4 linked regions of the Homo sapiens genome follow. The protein of the gene in region 3 interacts with the protein of the main gene of each other region in a pairwise test. Each region holds a gene or a part of one and is shown on either strand. Other genes may lie near its edges. The genes, in order: TFG, MRPS6, STAT5B and AFTPH.

The links.
Region 1: the proteins of STAT5B (region 3) and TFG interact in a two-hybrid assay, tested with the Homo sapiens proteins (one large-scale study listed by BioGRID and IntAct).
Region 2: the proteins of STAT5B (region 3) and MRPS6 interact in binary tests that used the Homo sapiens proteins (3 or more experiments, as listed by UniProt).
Region 4: the proteins of STAT5B (region 3) and AFTPH interact in a two-hybrid assay, tested with the Homo sapiens proteins (one large-scale study listed by BioGRID and IntAct).

What each region holds. Positions count from the first base shown.
Region 1 is NC_000003.12:100,732,846-100,738,488, reverse strand, and holds part of TFG (protein TFG), read right to left. Parts: intron 1,914-5,643; coding exon 1,773-1,913; intron 1-1,772. UniProt on the Homo sapiens protein: Plays a role in the normal dynamic function of the endoplasmic reticulum (ER) and its associated microtubules. Required for secretory cargo traffic from the endoplasmic reticulum to the Golgi apparatus.
Region 2 is NC_000021.9:34,117,194-34,122,836, reverse strand, and holds part of MRPS6 (small ribosomal subunit protein bS6m), read right to left. Parts: intron 1-5,643.
Region 3 is NC_000017.11:42,216,499-42,222,141, reverse strand, and holds part of STAT5B (signal transducer and activator of transcription 5B), read left to right. Parts: intron 1-2,299; coding exon 2,300-2,430; intron 2,431-2,678; coding exon 2,679-2,830; intron 2,831-3,263; coding exon 3,264-3,419; intron 3,420-3,811; coding exon 3,812-3,991; intron 3,992-4,677; coding exon 4,678-4,765; intron 4,766-4,859; coding exon 4,860-4,982; intron 4,983-5,643. UniProt on the Homo sapiens protein: Carries out a dual function: signal transduction and activation of transcription. Mediates cellular responses to the cytokine KITLG/SCF and other growth factors. Binds to the GAS element and activates PRL-induced transcription.
Region 4 is NC_000002.12:64,551,055-64,556,697, reverse strand, and holds part of AFTPH (aftiphilin), read right to left. Parts: intron 5,594-5,643; exon of another isoform or gene 5,434-5,593; intron 5,256-5,433; 5' UTR 5,224-5,255; coding exon 3,289-5,223; intron 1-3,288. UniProt on the Homo sapiens protein: Component of clathrin-coated vesicles.

The sequences.
Region 1 (5,643 bases), on a different chromosome or scaffold from region 3:
GATATTGCTAGTAGCGCCTTAATTCCCATTTATTTATACATAAACAGCAAACATTATTTGGTACAATGATCCTTCCAACTGTCATTGTATCACAGTATACACTGCTTAAAATGGGATTTATTTAAAAACAAATCTTTAGTTCGCTTGATGTAGGCATTAAACTCTCATCATACCTATACTCTGCTTTTGTCCATTTCAGCTGACATCTGCTTTAGTTCTAGTTTGTTCTAGTTTTGGCAGTAGCATTTTGGTGCAGAGGAGGAGTTAATTAAAGTTGGTTGAGAAAAGGCTTAAGCAATAAGAAATTCTTCGCAAACCACTGATTCATCAGCAAAATGTCACCTGCTAGTCCATAATGACTGGTGTTCATCCAACAGACAACTCTGTGGATTTTTTTTTTTTTGGCTTTGTTTGTTTTTGAGACAGGGTCTCGTTCTGTTGCCCAGGCTGGAGTGCAGTGGAGTGATACAGCTCACTGCAGCCTAGACCACCCACTTCAATTCAACAATGCAAACAATCCTCCCACTTCAGCTTCCCAAGTAGCTGGAACTATAGGCACATGCCATAGCACCTGGCTAATTTTTTTAAATCTTTTTTTATTTTGTAGGGACAGGGTCTCACTATGTCACCCAGCCTAGTCTCAAACTCCTGGGCTCAAGTGATCCTCCTGGCTCGGCCTCCCAAAGTGCTGGGATTATAGGCGTGAGGCACCACACCTAGCCAGGTAACTCTGAAAGTATCACCACAGGATGATAGGATTCTATTCCAAAAGTGGTCAGTTCATTTTAGCCTATGTTTTGTTTTTGTTTTAATGTAATTGATAACCTTAATCACTTGCTTCTGGGGCTGGAAATACATTATACCACTATCTGACCCGTTAAACAAATAGTTAGAGCACCACCTGGTGTTTGTTTTGAAGTGGAATGCGGCTTTAAAGGTCCCAACACACATAGACAATACAAAAATCACACTTCATTATCTGGAAGGCACCCTAGAGATTAGTTAAGTACTTAGTCACATTCTGCAGAACTCCAAGGTTTTCAATGAGGCACCTTAGTGCCTGCTGTGTGAAGTCTGTTGCCCTTCAATCCCCTATTTTAAATATGGAGCTTTCAGGTTATATTTCATTCAGAACTAAAGACATTCTTTTGAAACCACTGGGTTCAGTCCAGTTTTCACATTTTACAGTGAAAGAATATCAAAACCCAGAGAGACTAAACTGCATATCCAAGGACAGATTATTTCAGAAGAAAAAGTCTGACTTAAAATACACTGCTTTTTTTCCATTAAAGACATATTGCTAAATTTACAAAATTATAAAAGGCTACTAATCTTAACAAAAAAAACCCACTACAACTAAAGTTATCCTTTACCTCTATTCAGAAATCTTTTTTAAATTAGAAAAATCATGCACAGATGTTGAAGAAAGGAGGGAGATAAAATAGCATCTATAACACAAAATAAAGTGTGAAATCACCAGTCTGAACTTCACTATCCTCCCCTCCAAGGGTCACCACTGACTAATGACTGGTCTTTCACTCTGTATCTATATTCATAGAAACACTTTTTTGAGGTATTTTTTTCATTCCAATAATTGGAAACATACCTGACATATTGTTCTATTTGGTTTTTTAACATCAAATCATGTCAGTAAATCAAAATTTTTCCTGTGTTTAAGGCATGACTAAATACATGAAGTGTTTACAACAATGCTGTAATAAACACTTCTACACATGTACTTTCCCAAACATGTGTTCTAAACTCTATTTTACCTTCAATCTGACCTGCTTGAGTCTGAGCTCCTGTATATGGTGGCTGCTGTGGCTGAACGCCTGGTGGGTGAGCTGCTGAGGAGGAGGAAGCAATGCTGTCGGGTGTTCCTGAACGATCTTCTGCAGGAGCACTGGGTGGCCCTGGATAGTCAAAAAAAAGTCAGTTTAGTATCCAACACAAGGCCTTCCCCCAGCAAGCTCAAGGAATAAGTTTGGTTAAAAGATACTAAAAGTACTATAGAATAAGTATATAACCACAAATACGCCTTTTTACATTAAATGTATGTACTTTATTTTTTCCTTTGCTCCAATCTCTTAATCCAAAGCTACAACTGGAACTCCTTCCTTATAAAGTGTAGAGTACTATATTCCTGAGTCTTAACCTCTCCCTGCAAAAATCAAAACTCATGTCTGCAATGCCAATATCCCCCTACTCCAAGCAATGTATTCTGCACAGGAACCAAAATTGTCACTTCATTCTTCAAGGGGTCTTCACTGACCATAAATTAAGTTCAACCTCCTAGTTTGGCATTAAGGGTCCAAACATTATTTCTCACAATTTCTCTTCTCACATGCCTCCCTTTCAGCTAAACTAACCTTCTCCCTACTCCCATAACATAGCTAATATTTTTTTGACCTCTATTTCTCTCCCACTAGATCCCATATATTTAAATATAACATTCACATATTTAAATATAACATTATTTAAAATCCAATTATAATTCCACACTTCTAGTAAGCCTTCTTGACTCATGAATACTTTTTCTACTAGTGAACTTCTATCTAGTTTACTTTTGTTAACTCATACTGACTTCTACTTTGCATTTCTGAATAGCTCTCACTTTCCCTCTTAAAGACTCTGCACTCTTTTGGCCGGGCTCCTGACTGTTGATTCTTTTTGTCTGCCGAACAAGGCCTAGCACTCTAACTTACATATGGAGCCACTATAATTCTTACAAAATAATGAACACAGAAATGAATGGAGAGAATATATTACAGTTCCAATGCTGTGACAGTCAAAAAAGATATTCTGAGGACAATGTAAATATGTCTTATTCCTTTAAATTCTTTCTGCTTTGGCAATGCAGAAGAGTGGTTAAAAGCATAGGTTTTGGAGCTAGACTACCCAGGTTCAAATCCTAGTGCTGTCACTCACTAGCTGTGTAACTCTGGACATGTTACATAATCTCTTTCTGTGCCTCAGTTTCCTCATCTGTACAAAGGATATACTAATTCCTACTTGATAAGGTTATTGTGAGGATTATGAGTTTACAAGAGCTTATAGCATGGGCTTATAAAAGGAATTATACAGCAAAAGCTTATAAAAGTGACTACTACTCAGAAAGTTCCATATAAGTACTTGCTATTATCAGCAGACTAATTTCTCTAAGGGCAAACCTCTATCTTCTGCTCTGATGTATCCCCAGAACTTACCACAGTATTAGGCACAGTTGACAGCTGACAGTCCAAGTATTAATAAGAACCTAAACTAGGATATAATAGTGGTAATGCAAGAGAGACTGATGATTGCCAAAATAAAATGGATGATGGTTTCTATCTACCACCATTTTACTTAAATTTATATCTATGTAGATAAATACACACATTCTTCCCACAAAAGACACTGTTATTAGCCTAAATATATATATTTATTACTTTGGCTCCTCTTTCCTCCCTTATATGTAATTTATTACAGTTAATATTCATTCCATGTTTGTAATATTTTATCCCTCCTTCCCACTGCCACATTCATTATTCTAATAAGCCACATTTTTACCACATCACACCTGAAGAACTACAAAAGTATCCTAGCTATGCATACAGTTTTTCCTACTATAATTCAACATACAAAGCTGTGAGAAAAATGGTCTTCAAATAATGTGAATCATATTAATATTATTCTAGTCTGGAATATACTACATTTAAATCAAAATTTAAAAGTCTGACCTCATCAAATTTTCACACAATTCTCTTTTGTGAGTAATTCCATGAAAGTCTCTAAGAAATACAAAATGGACTGTACACATTTCCAACTACTGATAAAGGCAAAGTAAATCCATCAGATAAACTCTCTCCCAGGTAACAACTAAAAACATGAACAAAACAAAAGAAACTATTTGAAATAACTGAAAGTCAATCAGAAACCAGAGGAGTTTACCCCAATAAAATTAGAATGGATAAGAATTAAAAGCGCTGACCTCTGCAGCTCCAATGGCAGAAAACCACAGTGTTAACAACCTTATGGCTAGACAAGCAGCTGAAGATTTAGGAGGAAAATCCCGGAAGTGAAGGTGCTACTGAAAGGGTAAGACCCACGATCTAGGTATATACACTCTGTCCAAATCCCCAGCTGACTATAGGGCTGGGAGAGCAGACGAGGATATCTCAAGAAGGCTCAGAGAAAAATGCAGCACCTAGAGCAAGCTGAAAGGACTGAGCATACATATCAGCTGCTATACACCATAGGGAGAAAGAAGGAGCAGTTTTGAGTATGTGAAAGTTATCAAAACCAAAATGAAGTCATTAATGTTAAAAAAAAATTAAAAACTCTGATAAGGCCATGAAGAGAGGATTCTTGCAAAAACTATCACAAAAGAGTTCAAAAACCACAAGCCTACACAAAGGCCATCACAACTTTGCAAAAAAAAAAGCAAAAAAAAAAACTTCTGTGACTGTGAGGACATCTGCCCAGAAACTGCCTGTCCAACCTCAGACTGGCATCACTCTTGCTAATGATCTTTGTAGCCAACAATAATTATTTCAAAACAATTATATATTCTCCTCATTTTTTCCTTTAAAAACCTTTGTCTGCCTTTACCTCACTGAATATGCACATAGTTTACTATGGCATGCATATTTTCAATGCAATGCTCTATTCCCAAATACCTTTTTCTTTTAGAGAGCGCTTTTCTGTTTGTTATTTATGTTAAGTCCATACAAATCAACTCCCTGCTAGATCAACAATAACAGAAAATCCTCAAAAGAATATAAGTCCAAGTCACTACAACATATTAACCAGAATGTCTAGTTTTCAACCAAACACTATCAGACAGGCAAAGAAACAGAAAAATGTGACCCTACTGGAGTTGGGGGGAGTGTGTGTGGGGGAGAGGAACCCAGTCAATAGAAACTGACTCCAAATGGGTCCAAGTGTTACATATTGCAGATAAACATTTTAAAGCAGCTAAATATTTTTAAAGAATCAAACATAAATACATTCAAACAATTAAAGGAAAATATAGACTTAATGAATGTAAAATAAAGAATCTCAACAGAAAAACAGAAACTATAAAAACCCAATGGAAATTCTAGAGCTGAAAGCACAATTAAACAATTCACTAGAAAGGTTCCACAGCATATTAGAAATCACAGCGACCTTGAAGAGTTCAACAGAAATCACCCAACCTGAAGAACAGAGAGAAGACTGAAGAAAAATGAACCTTAATGACCCATGAGACAGTATCAAGCTCTCCAATGTATGTGTTATTAGAATCCGAAAAGAGAAAAAGCAGGAAAAAATAATGAAGAAATTATAACCAAAAGTTAAACAGAATAAAACAATATAGGTACTGCTTTAAGGTTAAAAACTTATTTATATAAAAACCCACTGTATACTCAAGCAATTTAACAAGAAAATCTACATTTAATTTTCAATTTCTCTAAGATGAGGAGATAAGACAAATCAAATATAATTCGAATACTGCAACTAATCAAATTATAAAATAGTTCAGATTTTTAAAAACTTTCTAAATTTTACTTTCAAAAATTTACTTGAACCCAACAGTGCTTATTCTTTAAGGGGGAGGGTGCTACTCTTGGGGAGAGGACATAAGAAAGCTTTCTGAAGTGCTGGAAATCATCTACATCTTAA
Region 2 (5,643 bases), on a different chromosome or scaffold from region 3:
CATTTAACTGAAAATGCTGTTTCTTGACCTGGCATTACATCAATTAACGTATGATAAGGTAAAGGAACAGCCCATCCAAATAAAGAGTCGGGTCTCAGCTTTGCACTCAAAAAAAAAAAGGAAAAAAACATTTGATTGATTAGTTTTCTGATTAGCTACCCAAATAAATTTCAATTCCAGTTTTGCCTGATTAAAAAGGAATATATCTCAATATCTTTTAAGTTCCAACTGAAGTGTTTACAGTATAAAACTCATTACCCTCTTCTGAAGTAAGAGCTTATAAAGTAAAAAACATTTTCTTCTTACATCTGTCTCAAAAAGGGGAAAGGCTACCTAACAAGAATGTAACTTAGGAAAATATAAAAAAAAAAATTGTTTGACTTCAGTATGTCAAGGTCAAACTGTAGACTACTGGAATGGCCACATTCATCTCACTTTAATTTCAAAACACCCAGAAGTATAAAACGAAAGGTGGAAGGAGGAGCAAAAATAACGCCCCATAGACCTTACCTCACCATAAAGCAGGGTTGGCAAACCAGGGCTCTTGGGCCAAATCTGGCTTGCTACCTGTATTTGCAAATAAAGTTGAACTGGAACACAGCCAACTCACACATCTGCATAGTGTCTATGGCTACTTCTGTGCTAAAGGTAGATCTGTAATTACAAGAGACCACATGGCCCCAGAGCCTAAACTATTTACTATCTGGCCAACCCCTGGTTCTATATTGTGATGGGCTGAGGGAAGCTGGCAGGTCCTTAATCCATGTACCCTAAAATGCACCACAAATAAAACCATGAGCCTGGGCCACTGACTGACGTATAGAGGGTGTATTCCTCACTGGATGTGTCATCAGGTAGACACATCGGGTACCATCTAACGAATACCATCAGTTGAGCTGTTCAACTCACTGCAGGGCTCAGAACTGATTCCACTAATCCACTATTCCATCTGCCAAGCTCCTAATAATGTCTTTATCAACCCAGGTTGCCAACTTCAATGTTCCTCATTTGGTGAAACCTATAGATCTATTAAAATAAAATTCTTACGCTTAGAGGGGAAAAAGTTCTGCTCAATCCAGCACAATGTTCAACTTACAAAAGCATATAGTTTACAGGAAACAAATGATCTTGCTGCCATAATTCTCATTTATAAAGTCTCTGAACCACTCAATTCCAACTATTCTAAGAGAAGTTGTGCAGGCTTCTGAGAGGCTTCTCTCACCCCATCTGAAAGCAACTCCTTCAACTCTTTCCTTCTACCTACCAAATGCATCAATGAAACACACTTTGGCAAGGCACAGACTGAGGGCTGAAAACATTCATTTGAAAAAAAAATACAGAAAGAAAGGAATGAATGAATGGGAATGGAAACTAGAAAAACTAGGACTATGATTCTAGTCCTAGCTCATTCACTAATGAGTTATACAAACCTGAATATGTTATTAAAATTTATCAATTTTAAACTTGTACCTCAGTTTCCTCATCTGCTAAATTAGTAGTTCTCGATTTTCCTGTTGCTACAAGCTTCACATGAATAAACAACATTCATACTGCAATTCTCAACATCTGCTGGAGGCACAACAAAGTTTGATGAAAGTCTTTTTATGCCCCCCAATTCTGATATCTTCATCACCAAAATGCACCTCCATCCCCCAGTTCTCCTGATGTCATTCTTTTTTTACTTCTAACAGCACTACAGCAATCTAAAAATATTCTTTCACTAACCAGAATGTAAGCTACAGAGGAGCAAGGACCTTTGTCTATCTTGTACATGACTGTATTCCCAACGTCTAAAATGGGCCACACTCATCGAACAGGTGCTAGAAATAGCTGTGCTAATTGTACCTCCTTTAAGAGGGTCTCTTGCTTACTTACTCCTATCTTTCCTCAAGGAACTCTAAGTTTCCTTCTATCTCTAACATAACTTGAAGCCACTTTTCATATACAACAAAGCTCACTATCAAGGTGGTAACTGTAACACTGAGGCAAAATTACAATACTAATGTTTTCCCATTTACTTCACGCAGTACCAAAATGCTGTTCACACCAATACTGTATTTCAAAAATACCTACAATTCATCTAGAAGTGAAATTAATTAAATATTTTATACATTTCAAATATCAAATTCCAATACACATATAAATATAAATGTTAAAATTACATTATAATTATTTGCTGATTAGGTAAGATAAAGTACTATCCAAAAATTTAACGAAATAGTATAATACTTATAAAAAAGGTAATTAATCCTAGAAGAAATTAAAGCTAATTTTTTATATTAATTACCAAAACTAATGTTTAGCCTACAAAAGACTTAGGGAAAACCCAAGAGCTAACTTCAAATATTTGCAGGGCTATTATGCAAAAGGTAGATTTGTTTTATTTTGATTGGATTCCAAGAGTGGACTAGAATCAAAGGGTAAAAATTAGAGAAATCAAGCTGTATTTTGTAAACAAGAACATATTTCCAAAAATATACAGCTGTATGAAAATGCAGTGGGCTGCCTTGTGAAGTAGTGACCTTCCCATCACTTGAAGTACATAAATAGATACAGGATGGCTGTTGGATTAATATCTGCATGGGTGGGAGGTTGAACTCAACAACTTCTTAAAGCCCCTACCAAGACTAAATACTACTCTGGTACCACTCATCATTCTGAAGGACATTCTGCAGTGAAGCCAGTTTTGAAAACTGCAACTGCATAGCAATGAAGAATACACGTACTGCTAGGAAAAGTTAATGCTGCTGACTAGATTCATGCTAACGTACCAGCTGTTCTACTCACTACTGTTTTCACAATGATCTTCTAAAAGGGTCCCCCGTAAAGCCCAAGAGTCCTCAAACCATATTTTGAAAACCACAGTTCTAGAGATGCTAATGGGAAAAGTTGCTGTAGTAAAAGATGAGAGCAAAAAGGTGGGAAGAATGAAAGGAAGAAAGGAATCTCTCCTTGTCCCCCAAATAAAATCCCCACTCAGGAAGGTTACTGAAGCTAAGAATTCATGGAAGTATCATAACCACCACCACTAGTCAATGACCAACGTTTAACCTAATTAAACATATTTTCATCCCAGAAGAGAAACTTGTCAACAAAATTATCTTAGAAATTAGACTCTATGGGAAAGACAGTTTTAAGCCAGTGGCCTCCAATATACCCAGCTAGCACTACCACACCCTAGTTCCCCAGAAAATAAAGCACACATAGAATCCACAACATTCAACAGCATGCAGCATCTACCTACACCCTGCCCGCCTCACGTTACAAAGAGTTATACAACACTCAAGAGCAGGCAGGACTCAGGGAAGGTAGAGCCAAGACACAGAACTGTCAAAACCTGTGAAAATGTACATGTAAAAGTCTTTCCCATTCTTTGCTGAATCTTAATTCCAAATCTTACTTCCTTTAAAAAATTTCCTTGCAATTTAAATTTTCAAATAGAAAGGCTGTCCCTGTGAATTCTGCATTGACATTCTCACAGCAATCTGAAAATCTGTGAGCCCTAACTTTTCAACAGTCAAATGGGTGTCATGGAAAGTGGCTGAAGTTCTAGCAGACCTTGGGAGAACCATCTACATAAAAATATGTGAAGTGCCAGCCTTGCCTAATGACATAAGCAAAGCCCAACTATGAAATTGATTCCACAGGAACTGTTTGATCAAATATTCTTCATTGTAGAGAACCTCTTTTGCCCAACAATTTATTGAATCAGGAGTTTCAGTCCTCTAGGTAATTAAGGAATAAAAATTATCGAACACAGAAACTACTTTTTAAATTAGAATAAAATTCAATAAGGACAAGTCTAGAACACTAAGAAACATAAAGATGCCTAAGTACATGTTCAAATGTGATTACTTACCTCTACAGGCCTGAACCTGAAGTTATAACTTGAAGTGACTAGAAAAGTAACCTTTATAGGCTTTGTAAAGGTCAAAGATAGAAAACACTTATTAAAATTTAAATGCTGTACTCCTTTGCTTATGAATCATATTATATAGGCCATTTTTAAGAAACATGGAGTAGGCTGGGCACAGTGGTTCTTTCCTGTAATCCCAGCACTTTGGGATGCCAAGGCGGGCAGATCACTTGAGGCCAGGAGTTTGAGACCAGCCTGGCCAACATGGCGAAACCCCATCTCTACTGAAAATATAAAAATTAGCCAGGCGTGGTGGTGTATGCCTGTAGTCCCAACTACTCGGGTGGCTGAGGCTCAAAAATTACTTGAGCCAGAAGGAGGTTGTAGTGAGCTGAGACTCTGTCTCAAAAAAAAAAAAAAAAAGAAAGAAAGAAAGAAATGTGGAGTAACTAATGAATAAAGACTTAACAGGCTTTAAAACAGTAGGTAAATGGGAGGGGAAAGAAGAGACAGGAACCAAAATACAGTGACCCTGGAGCAATACAGGTTGAAACTGTGTAGGTCCACTTACAAGCGAATTTTATTCAATAAATATATTGGAAAAATTTTTGAAGAGTCACAACATTTTGGAAAAAAAAACTTGCTTTTTCTCTAGCTTACTTTATTGTAATACAGTATATAATACACATAACATACAAAATAACATTGGTAAGGCTTCCAGGTCAACAGTAGGCTATTGGTAAAGTTTCTGGGGAGTCCAAAGTTTACACACAGATTTTCAATTATGCATACCCCTACACTGTTCAAGGGTCTAACTGTACATAAAGTGTAGTAAGAAAATAATAGTGTAATGCAGAGAAAAACTCTTTGAATAAACCAATGCTGTGTGCTCTGCAAAAACAAAAATACCCCAAATTTTAAAATTTTTAAAATAATGTTGAAAAAAATACTGCAGATTCACAGGTCAGGCTTTTCAAGTGGTCATTTAATTGTCAGGCTATAGTGTAGAATCTTAAGAATTGCTTAAGTTAATATATTAACTAAAAAGCACTCGTGAATATGGTATTTATATAATCATCTTTCTGAGAAACAGTTACATGCGGGAAAACATCACGCATCTTTATGGGGAAGCCATTTTAAAATAACTTAAATGGCACAAGTCATTTAAGGAGATACATACATACACAGGAGATACATACATCCTGACACCTGCATGTGGAGTGAAAGGGCAAAGTGAATGATCTCTTATGGGCAGACCAAATTCTGCGGGTATCAGAAATGTAAGCTGAAACTTAGGAAATTGCCATTTTGGTTCAACTTAACATTTATCTGGAAACATTCTTCTCAAAGTGTCTTCCTCAAGACAAGTATGTCCAAGCTGCTCGCTAGGAAGCCCATCTCCAAAAGGGTAGCCGCAGGGAAATGGAACACCAAGTCCCTGTCCCTAAAAAGTCTGCGATACAGATAGGAAGACAGACACTTGTAAGTTACTAATAAAGGCAGATTCAAACACAGGCAATACTGATGTGAAAAGCAATGATGCCACAAGAACTCAAAAGAAGGAATTACTACTACTAACTGGTTGGTTGAAGAAAGCAGATTTCAGCCAGACCCTGAAAAATGAATACCCCGTCAGGAGGGAAAGAGGGCCACTTTGGGTGCTCTCAGAGTGGGTCTGAACTAACAGCAGACGAAAGGAAGGGAGAAAATTCTTATGAAATTTATATTTGGGGTAGAATCAACATGGGTACTGAATTTAGTATAGGTAGAAGCCTTTGTTTTCTTCC
Region 3 (5,643 bases):
ACACACAGCACACACACCCCCCACAGCACACAGAGACACACAGTGCACACACACAGCACACACACACCACACACAGCACACACACAGACACACAGCACACACACACCACACCACACACACCACACCACACACAGCACACACACACCACACCACACACAGCACACACACACCACACATAGCACACACACACACCACACATACACACCACACACACATAGACACACAGCACACACACACACACACAGCACATGCTCCTCTAATTCCATGTATGTAGGTTCCATTTTATGTCTATAGTGATACTACTTATTTACTCTTTATCTTCTCCACTGGAATATAAATCTTTGAGAAGGGACTATATCTTTTATCTCTGTACCCTGAGGCCAGCACAATGCCTGAAACATAACAGTTATTGAGTAAAGGTTGACAGGATGATTCTAGCCTGTCTTCCTTTTTTATCTGAATCCATCCTAGACTGGCCCTAGAAGAAGGGCAGCTCCTTCAGAGAATGGAAACGGAAGATTTGGGATGGCTATTCCTACCCAAGTCCTTAGACTGTCAACAGTATTTCTGATCCCGTGCCTGGCTTTTCTGTTTCCTGTGCATGGTGGCGGATTAGGTTTGGATTCAGGTTGGGTTTGGATCTATCACGCAGTGTCTTCTCAGTCCCATTTGTCAAGTTCACTCAGCAGAAACACAGACTATTGATCTGCTTTTGCCAGGGAAGGCTCAGCTGCCTCCAGTGGAGTAGGGAAATTGCTTCCCGTCTCCCTGGCCTCCTTCCCAAAAGCTTCTGCAAATTTCCAGGAGAGCCCTAAGTGGGTCCCTTGCATAGGAAGGCTGGGCCCAGGTGTTGGGATCACCACCACCCTCCCTGTGGCTGGGCAGGATTCCTGAGGTAGCCGTGCAGATACCTTGGATCTGTCCGTCCCTGGATGATCCTCTTCCTGCTCGATACCTGCAGTGAGATTGGAGCCATATTTCTGAGTTCTAGCTCTGGGCTGTTCCTGGCTACATAGAGTTGCTTTTGTCTGTCCCAGCTTGTGCATCCCATGGGTCAGGGCTGGGGTCAGAGTGACGTGGCCCTCAGGGGCCAGCCAGGAGCTCGACCAAGACATGCTGGTGCGCGCATCTTCTGACTCAGCTCAAGCAAGGACTCTGGGCTGTTGAGAAGGTGATGGGAAGGGATTAATAGTCCCAGTGTGGTGGAGACGGGCTGTCGCTGGGAGGGTGGGGTGGGCCTGCGGTGGTGGTTGTAACTGTGGACATGTTTACTTTCTTAGCCTGGGTTATTGATACACAGGTGCTCCTGTGTTCCACGTTCCCTGTGTCTTACCTATTTCATAATAATTTTTAAAAGGTAATGAGGCCTAACTTACTCCCTGTCCCGCCATCAATGAGACTCCTCACAGATGGTGTGGAGGGAAGCCGCCTCCCTTCGGCCTCCCTTTCCTGAGAGAATCTTGGTGGCTCTGCATCCCCAGTGGCCCTGGACATGCTCTCCCTCTGCGGTCTGTCTGTCTGTCCGTGTTCCCTGGTTGGTTGGCTGGGTTCACAGTGAGCTCACCTGGACAAACATGCTGGGCCCCTTCCAGCCTCTCAAGAATCTCATCCTCCCCTGAGGAGGGATTGCTGTGCTCAGGGACTAGACAGAGCCGCCGGGGCTGGGTTTCCCTGAAGAGGCCTTGCTGCGGGAGGGATGGGGCCGAGCAGCTGCTTGTCTCTGTCACCTCTTCTCTCTGTCCTGTTCCCCGTTAACCAAGAAGCACGAACCTCACACAGAGCTCACCCATGTCAGGCAGCTTTCTGGCATCTTCCATGTCCTCATGTATTTAATCTTAATGCACCCCACTGAGGCAGGTGCCGAGAATCTCCCGTTTTACACGTGGGGAAGCCAAGGCACAGGAAAGGAAAGCGATTTGCCCAGGTTCACCTGCAGTCAAGGGCATGGGCACACTTACACCCCAGACAGCCTGGACCCATGCTGGGCCGCGAGAAGAGGGCTGGCAGCCCTGTGAGGCAGGCGGGCAGGAGGCAGGCAGGCCTCCTCCCCAGCTGCCCCAGCACCCGTGTGCCCCCAGAGGGGACGGCTCAGAGTCAGGAGGCTGGCGAGCAGGGCCCAGAGGCGCCTCCTGGGGCACCCATTCATCTTGGCCCCCCTGGCTGTCAGGAACCCCGACTTGCCCTTAATGCAGTATCTGAGCCCAGGAGGGTCTCGCTCCAGAACGGGTGAGTGGGCTTCTCTGGGCCTCCTGTTGGACACTGGGAGGTGATGGTCATGGTTTCCTCTCCCCTCCTCTAGCTCAGTTTGGCCCGCTGGCCCAGCTGAGCCCCCAGGAGCGTCTGAGCCGGGAGACGGCCCTCCAGCAGAAGCAGGTGTCTCTGGAGGCCTGGTTGCAGCGTGAGGCACAGACACTGCAGCAGTACCGCGTGGTGAGTGGGGTCCTGGGCCTCTCCTGGGCGTGGGTGCCATGAAGTCAGTCTCTGGGGACCCGAGGGAGGGCTGGGACCAGCATGAGAGCAGAACCTGGGAGGGCAGGAGGCCTTTTTTCCTGGGGGCCTTGCGAGGCAGAGCAGCTTGGGGAGAGGGAACGGCCTGGGCCCTGCCCTGCCATTTCCCAGCGAGGCCCTGCGGTGTTCTCTGGGAGCCCAGAAGGGGCTGCTCTCCTCCCTTCCCTCAGGAGCTGGCCGAGAAGCACCAGAAGACCCTGCAGCTGCTGCGGAAGCAGCAGACCATCATCCTGGATGACGAGCTGATCCAGTGGAAGCGGCGGCAGCAGCTGGCCGGGAACGGCGGGCCCCCCGAGGGCAGCCTGGACGTGCTACAGTCCTGGTAATGGTGTGGGGCGGCCAGCGGGCAGGGCAGGAGGGGCTGGTGGGGATCCCGGCTGCTTCTGCGTCCTGTGCTGGCTCCTGCAGCAGGCCCCCTCCATCCTGGGACAGCTCTTGTTTCTCCAGGGAGCCTGGTTCCTCAATCAGACTTTGGCCCCCATCCTGTGCACCTCCCCCAGGAAGGGGGCTGCTGTCCTGGAGATGGGACAGGGTTCGGGTGTGTGGGGTGATGCTTGGGCTGTTTGGGCCTAGTCAGGGTCGCCCCTCCTGTGTACGTCTCTAATTCTGGGAGGCAGGGAGCTCTGCTCTTCCCATGGGTGGGAAGTGTGGCGAAAGCACAGAGCCTTCCTGGGGGAACGGGAGCTGTGTCTTGGGGCCTGGCGTCTGTGCGGAGGAGCCATTGTCCTCCTGTTGGCCTTGGGGCTCTCGTGCAGGTGTGAGAAGTTGGCCGAGATCATCTGGCAGAACCGGCAGCAGATCCGCAGGGCTGAGCACCTCTGCCAGCAGCTGCCCATCCCCGGCCCAGTGGAGGAGATGCTGGCCGAGGTCAACGCCACCATCACGGACATTATCTCAGCCCTGGTGACCAGGTGACTGCTGCCTGTTTGCCATGCCCAGGAGCTTGGGGCAGCTCCTGCCTGCGTGGGGGGAGCCGCAGGTGCCTTCCAGACCAGCAGATCCACTTCCTGCCTCTCATCCCTCCCAACTCCATCTCCAGTTGCTGTGGCCCTTGCCCAGTTTCTCCTGTGGACACTGCAAGAGATGCCCTTGGGCTGCAGCCCATGCCAGCTTCTGTGTTATCTCACTCCCCTCTCCATCCTCTCCCTGGACTCTCACGGCTTCCCCAGGAACAGAGGCTGTGCCCGAGCTCTTCACCTCCTGAGCCCCTCGGGAGGCAGCCCCACCCCCACCACAGAGGGACTGAGAGCCCTTTCCCCTGCACCAGCCCCTCATCATGCATCTGTCCCTGTGTCCCCTGCAGCACGTTCATCATTGAGAAGCAGCCTCCTCAGGTCCTGAAGACCCAGACCAAGTTTGCAGCCACTGTGCGCCTGCTGGTGGGCGGGAAGCTGAACGTGCACATGAACCCCCCCCAGGTGAAGGCCACCATCATCAGTGAGCAGCAGGCCAAGTCTCTGCTCAAGAACGAGAACACCCGCAAGTAATTGTGCAGCTTCCTCTCATTCCCTGCTACTTGTCTCATGTCCTGGCAACAGGAAAAAAAGAATTCTGCCTCCTGTGTCAGATCCCTGTTTGCCCTTCTGGCCTCTTCTGGGCATCAGCAAAGGAATATAAGGAAGTTCTTGGGCCTGGTGTGGTGGCTCACACCTGTAATCCAAGCACTTTAAGAGGCCGAGGTGGGCAGATCACCTGAGGTCAGGAGTTCAAGACCAGCCTGGCCAACATGGTGAAACCCTGTCTCTACTAAAAATACAAAAAATTAGCCGGGCGTGGTGGCAGGCACCTGTAATCCCAGCCACTAGAGAGCCTGAGGCAGGAGAATCCCTTGAACCTGGGAGGCAGAGATTGCAGTGAGCTGAGATTGCAGTGAGCTGAGATCACGCCACTGCACTCCAGCCTGGGCAACAAGAGCAAAACTCCGTCACAAAAAAAAAAAAAAAAGTTCTCTTAGGAACTGTTTTCTGTGAAGATAGTTTGATCTTGTTTCATTTTGTAGAGATACGTCCGAGAAGATTACATGTATGTGTTATGTAGCTAACATTTCCTCTAAATGACGTACATTTTTAGCAAACTTCTCTATTTCCTGCTACCCCAAATTATATTATTTACTCCGCATGTCCTGAGACCCTGGCATGGGTTTGGAGCTGGTCTCTCTCTGATTTGCAGTGATTACAGTGGCGAGATCTTGAACAACTGCTGCGTCATGGAGTACCACCAAGCCACAGGCACCCTTAGTGCCCACTTCAGGAATATGGTGAGGGTGGAAGAAGAGGAAGAATGAATTTTTCCCTGGTCTTTGAGGGGAACAACTTATATCTTACGTTTCATCTTATGTTTCTTCTTTGTAGTCCCTGAAACGAATTAAGAGGTCAGACCGTCGTGGGGCAGAGTCGGTGACAGAAGAAAAATTTACAATCCTGTTTGAATCCCAGTTCAGTGTTGGTGGAAATGAGCTGGTTTTTCAAGTCAAGGTAAAGCCTTCCCTCAGCTCTGCGTGTGCGTGTGCGTGTGTGTGTGTGGTGTACTTTATGTTACAAAATATTTTTTTTTTATCACATAGCATCTTCTTCTTTTTGACTGTTGGTAAACTGAAAATGGACTGACCTCACCCTGAGAACTGTTTCACTTAGGTTCTCTTAAGACATGAACAGAGGCCAAGCACAGTGGCTCATGCTTGTAATCCCAGCACTTTGGTAGGTTGAGGCAGTCAGGTCACTTGAGGTCAAGAGTTCAAGACCAGCCTGGCTAACACAGTGAAACCCCATCTCTACTAAAAAGTACAAAAATTAGCCAGGCGTGGTGGCACGTGCCTATAATCCCAGCTACTCAGGAGAATCACTTGAACCTGGGAGGCTGAGGTTGTAATGAACCGAGATTGTGCCACTGCACTCCAGCCTGGGTGAAAGAGTGAGACCCTGTCTCAAAAAAAAAAAAAAAAGACATGAACAAGCAAGGCCCAGTGCAGTGGCTCACATCTGTAATCCTAACACTTTGGGAGGCCAAGGCAGGAGGATTGCTTGAGTTCAGGAGTTCCAGACCAGCCTGGAGCTGGTTGTGAGACCCCGTCTCAACAACAACAACAAATTAAAAAATAAAAAATAAAACATGAACAAACAATAATGAACTGAACTA
Region 4 (5,643 bases), on a different chromosome or scaffold from region 3:
ATTATTGCACTAACCCCAACGAAGACATATTTATTAACATTTTAAGATATCTTTTTGGTGGGCTAAAAACAGGAAAGTGCTAAGAAATGGGGACCTGGACAATGTCACATACCAAATAGTGAAAAGTGGAAGAAATCTGAAATGACCAACTATACCATTTGTCTGACTTCACAAAACAAAGATTTGTTTTCCATGCTTGTTTAATCAAACAAATTAAATCAAATTGCCATGTTTGTTTAATTAAGCTCTGAATTCTAAAACACGTTCTGTCAAAGCAAAATTCGGACAAAACCACTTGATGGCATTTTGTTCAGGACACTTGTGGCATCCGGGTAAGATTGAACAGAAATAAATCATTTCAACTTTTACCACTAAAAAACTTAATGCTTACTGTTATTAATATGTGAGGAGGCTAGGCACGGTGGCTCACGCCTGTAATCCCAGCACTTTGGGAGGCCGAGCCGGGTGGATCACCTGAGGTCAGGAGTTCGAGACCAGCCTGGCCAATATGGTGACACTTCATCTCCAATAAAAGTACAAAAATTAGCCGGGCGTGGTGGCATGGGCCTGTAGTCCCAGCTACTAGGGAGGCTGAGGCAGGAGAACTGCTTGAACCCGGGAGGCGGAGGCTGCAGTGAGCTGAGATCGTGCCACTGCACTCCAGCCTGGGTGACAGAGCAAGATTCTGTCTCCAAAAAAAAAAAAAAAGTGAGGAATTCGTGCTGTTCCAAACACTGTCCGGAGCAACTAGGGAAAACATTTTAAGAAAAATACTAATAAATCTAATCCTCTCCAAAAGGGCTAAATTAATGCACTCTTCTAGCAGAATCTGAAGCCCAAGAAATAAAGTGCCAGCCGCAATTCTCTTTCACAACAGCAGGGTAAGAACGAGAGTCTTTGTTCAATCTTTCTCCACTTCTGACTCAGTCACTTACTCAGCAGGGTTTATCCATTTCACTACTTCAACTTTCTTCCCAAACTTCTTCTGGCCTCCTCCAGCAGTTTCTCTTTCCCAACATCCAAATTCTGTTCATTTTCCATAACCCATTAGCAAAAATAGAAGCATGAGGCCTTAGCCAAACAAATCCAAGAAAGTCTTGTGTGTGTGTGTGTGTGTGTGTGTGTGTGTGTGTGTGTGTGTGACAGTCTCTCTCTGTAGCCTAGCCTGAAATGCAGTGGTGTGATCTCGGCTCACTGCAACCTCCACCTGCTGGGTTCAAGTTATTCTCCTGTCTCAGCCTCCTGAGTAGCTGGGATTACAGATGCACGTCACCACGCCCAGCTAATTTTTGTATTTTTAGTAGAGACAGGGTCTCACCATGTTGGCCAGGCAGGGCTAGAACTCCTGACCTCAAGTGATCCACCCACTTCAGCCTCCCAAAGTGCTGTGATTACAGGCATGAGCCACTGCACCTGGTCTCAGAAACTCTTAATGCATCTTGCCCCATCTATAGTTTGTTTTATTTTTATAAAAAAAAGAATCATACTATAAAATTCTTATTTTCTAGCAGATTATTTCACTCATTTTAAAATTTCCTTTTATATTCACAAAAGTTCTTTGAAGTAGGTATTACCTTCTTTGTATATACAGCTGAATTCAGAAGTAACCTATCCAAAAATCATAAGGCTTTTTAAGAGGCTGGGTCAAAATTCAAACTCAGATCTGTCAGATTCCATGAAGCCCATACGCTTTATTATCTCCTATATCCAGTTATCAAATTATACATAAATAACTTCAATCAACTTGTATGATGCAAGAAATTCCTACTTGAGTGGTCACACTTTAAAAAATTCATTATCTGATGATGTTAAAAGTTCTAAGGCTACAAATTAAAGATCACCCAATACCAGTGTCACCCTATCCTCTAGTGAGATGAAACTAAATAGGGAAAGGGTTAGGTCAAAAGCAACAGTCCTCATTTAGCATCATAATTAGTTCACTTCTTGTTTAAAATGGCAAGGTTCTGCCTAAATAATGAACTGCTCAATAGGAATAATACACATTAGCTAAACCATGTAATAACTGAATTAGCAAATTAAACTACTTTGACACAAAAGCCAACTAAAAAGCGATTAGCTATGCACACCAACTGGTAATACCATAATTTCTCTAATATCTTACTGTCTCAAAGTTATCAAGGCAATGAAATATAAGTATTTCAATTACAAAGACTTTGGAAAGATTTCCAGTTGAAAATGGTTTTCTTAGCAGAAGATAACTGGAGAAATAAAGTTTGTAGATTCTGAGTTTATTAACAGTATATTTAAAATAAGCTTGTGGATCAGGTGTTAGTTACATATATCAATTGTCAGTATAAGGCAGTGAGGTTCAAGGGAGTGCCCTCTTCCACACCCCTGGAGTTGAAAAAAGGTAAAGTTTAGCACAGAGTAGAACTCTGGACTGGGGAACAACCTAGATATCAAGCTACACCTCTAGGGGCTACTTTAGGTCAAAGTGAATCTTAATGAATCTTTTCTGAAAGAGTCTGAATCAAAAAAGGATAATGTATAGGAGGTAAGGGGTAAAAATATTCTCCCTGACACACCTACTCTCTAGGAAGAGCTAACAAGTACATTTGTAAGAAAGTATAGGCAAATAAATACAACTACAATAAGTGAACCTATAGTTATTTCTTATTTTAGGACTAAACCTTAATTCATCTCATACCCTCACCCCAAGTCTTTTAGCAGCTGCTAAATTATGAGGAAAAAGAAAAACTTGCTTTTTTCTAGTTGTTTTTCTGTTCTTCAATTCACTATAGCCTTTGGCACAGAATGAGGTTTCAAATTCTGCTTGTTCTCTCCTGGAATCAAAACCGTACTTGAATTTCCTAGGTCTTTGATGGAAAAAATTAACATTCTATTCTTAAGCTTAAAAAAAAAAAGATCCAAATCTCAGTTTAACCTTCTTTTAAAATCACTGTAAAGGGTAATACTGAAGGATTGACTGGAACCGTCAATTAGGTAATAAGTGTGGGTTTTTTTTTTTTTTTTTAACATATATGGTATTTATAGTCACCAAAAAATCCAAGTTGATGAGTATCTGTAAATATTAACGAAACTCATTGAGATAAAGAAAAATCTTACTGCGCTTTACTATAGGACTATTTGTAGTTTCCCAAAGGGTTGTGAAAAATGTAACCAACCCACAAATCAGACAGGCATTATACATCATAACGAGACTCCTTTAACAAGTACTCAGTTGAAAAAATATTTTTTGAAAAGCTGAAATTAGAAGCCTCCACAACAATTAATACATCATACAAAATAGAGAAAATTAGTAAATACCTGAACTGAAGTGGCTGATTCCTGTAAATGGCCACTAGCAACTGCTCCTTTGGAAGTTGCTGAAGGTACACTGTGCGTTTTGGGGGTTCCTGGAGTATCAATATTTTCATCTGTCCTATGTGACTGCCAGGCTTCCTTTCGATGATGAGATTCAGTAGCCTGCTGGTCTCCAAAAGCAGCCCAAGAACAACTATCTTTTTGTTCATCCTCAAAAGCATTCCAATCTACAACTTGGCTAGGACCAGCTGAACTGAAGTCTGCAAAATCATCAGAGTCTTGAAAACCATTGCAGTCATCCTGAATATTTGGCACAGAATCAAAATGTCCAATCTCACCTTCTTGCCCATTTTTAAGTTTTGCAACAGGTTCAGTGCCTGTTCCACTAGATTTTCTTGCCAATTGACATTCTTCTGATAAATTATCAGAAGTCTGTTTTAGGTCTGACTTTGTTAATATTGTCTCCTCTTGGCAAGAAACAGCATTTATATCCCCAAATTCTCCAAAGTCATCACCTGGTTCACTAAAATGTGGAAAGTGCTCTGAAGACTCTTCAAAAGTGGCATCACTCATTGAATCTTGAGTACCAGTAACAAAAGGTGGAGTTGAGCCACTGGCAGAGCCAAAGTCACCAAAATCACCAAAATCATCTTCATTGATATCATTGCAAGTCACAAAGTCATTACTACTATCACCATTTTTTACACTTAAAGAATCATCCAAATCATTTTCTTCTGTGGGGTCAATGTTTGGGCTTTGGAAATTAGTAAACTTTCTACTTTCTTCTTTGGGAGAACCAACTTCATCATCAGAAGTTTTAACAGAATCCATGCATAGGTGAGCACATTTAGAAGTAAGTAAGTCAAGTTTTTCTTCAGTTTTACATTGTTCTCTCCTAATGGCTTCTGAATTATCAGCTGAGTCTACCAAACTCCAAGCCTTTGACTGAACACCTGACTGTAAAAATTCATCCTGTTGCAGTGTTGGAAGGCCTTGTTTTTCAACACTGAAACCTCTGTTAGTCACTATGCTTATTTCTGAAACACAAACCTGATCCTCTCCATCAGTGTCTCCTTTGTTATCCAAGCTTCTACCCAAAGCCACTTCTTTTACAGAATTCAGTTCATTGACTCTATTAATTTTATTGTTTTCCCGAATGGTTAGTGCTTCTCTATCATTTAAAACTGCACATTCTATTTCTTCTAATTGTATCCTTTCCTTTTTGGAAAATGTGGCAAAATCTGCAAATTCCTCAGCAGGACTAGGTACAGAGTCTAAATTATACTCAGTGCTATGAGTGCTAAGAGGCTTCCGTCCCTTTGAATCAGCTACATTGTCCAGATCATCTGTTCCCTGAGGATTTACAGTTTCCAACACTGCAAACCCATTTGTTAGAATCTCCAGACAAGGAGGCTTTTCACCATTGCAGCTCTCTAACTGCTTGTTTTGATGAACAACATTCATATTAGTTCTAAAATCTCCTGGAGAGAAACTTTCAAGTGTTCCAACATTCTGTCTCTGCTCCACTACTTTATTTAAATTTCCTGGTCTTTCCATGCCATCAATGGAAGTAGCTAACATTTCAGATGAAATTATTTCTTTGCTGGTGGTAGAAAGTAAAACATCAGACTGTCCTTTCACAGGAGCAGAAAGTTCAGCAGTGATGTCCTTATCATTACCATTTTTAATGGACTTAAAGCTTGTAAGGCTATCTACATTTTCTGAGAATTCATGAATTGGCATAAAATGGTTTGAAGGTACAAACTCTTCCTTGGGACGAGTATAATCTGGTGTATCGAAATCAACAAACCCTACACCAGAAGGGCTAACTTCTGAAAACCCACCAAATTCCCCAAATTCATCATCATCATCATCCTCTGCTCCATTGTCTAATGGTGGTGGGGATGAAGAGTACATTCGAATGATGTCTGGCTCCATTGTTCAGTTGCTTTCAAATAATTAATTTACACCTGTAAAAAAGAAAAAAAGAATTTTTGGAGGGGACAGATTACATAGAACAAGATCTTTCAAAATTCTCTCAAAGCTACTTTAAAACAATGCAAATTTACAATGCTCTATTTTGTCTCCTTTTTTCCTTGACCATGTCCTGCATGATGTTTTGTATCTTTTAATCTATTTTTCTCTTAGGTGCAATTACTTTACACAGCTATAGTGCACTGGAAAAAAAAAAAGTTCTCTTAGACTACATGTTACCAAGAGCACTGGTAGTACATTAATGAAATGTGGGGATTCCAGATAATTCTGAATATACACTTACAAAAGTACAGCTACAAAATTCTCTCCTGGGGTAAGTGCTTATTCTGTTAAGTTCTCCTTCAATTCATTAAGGATTCAGTG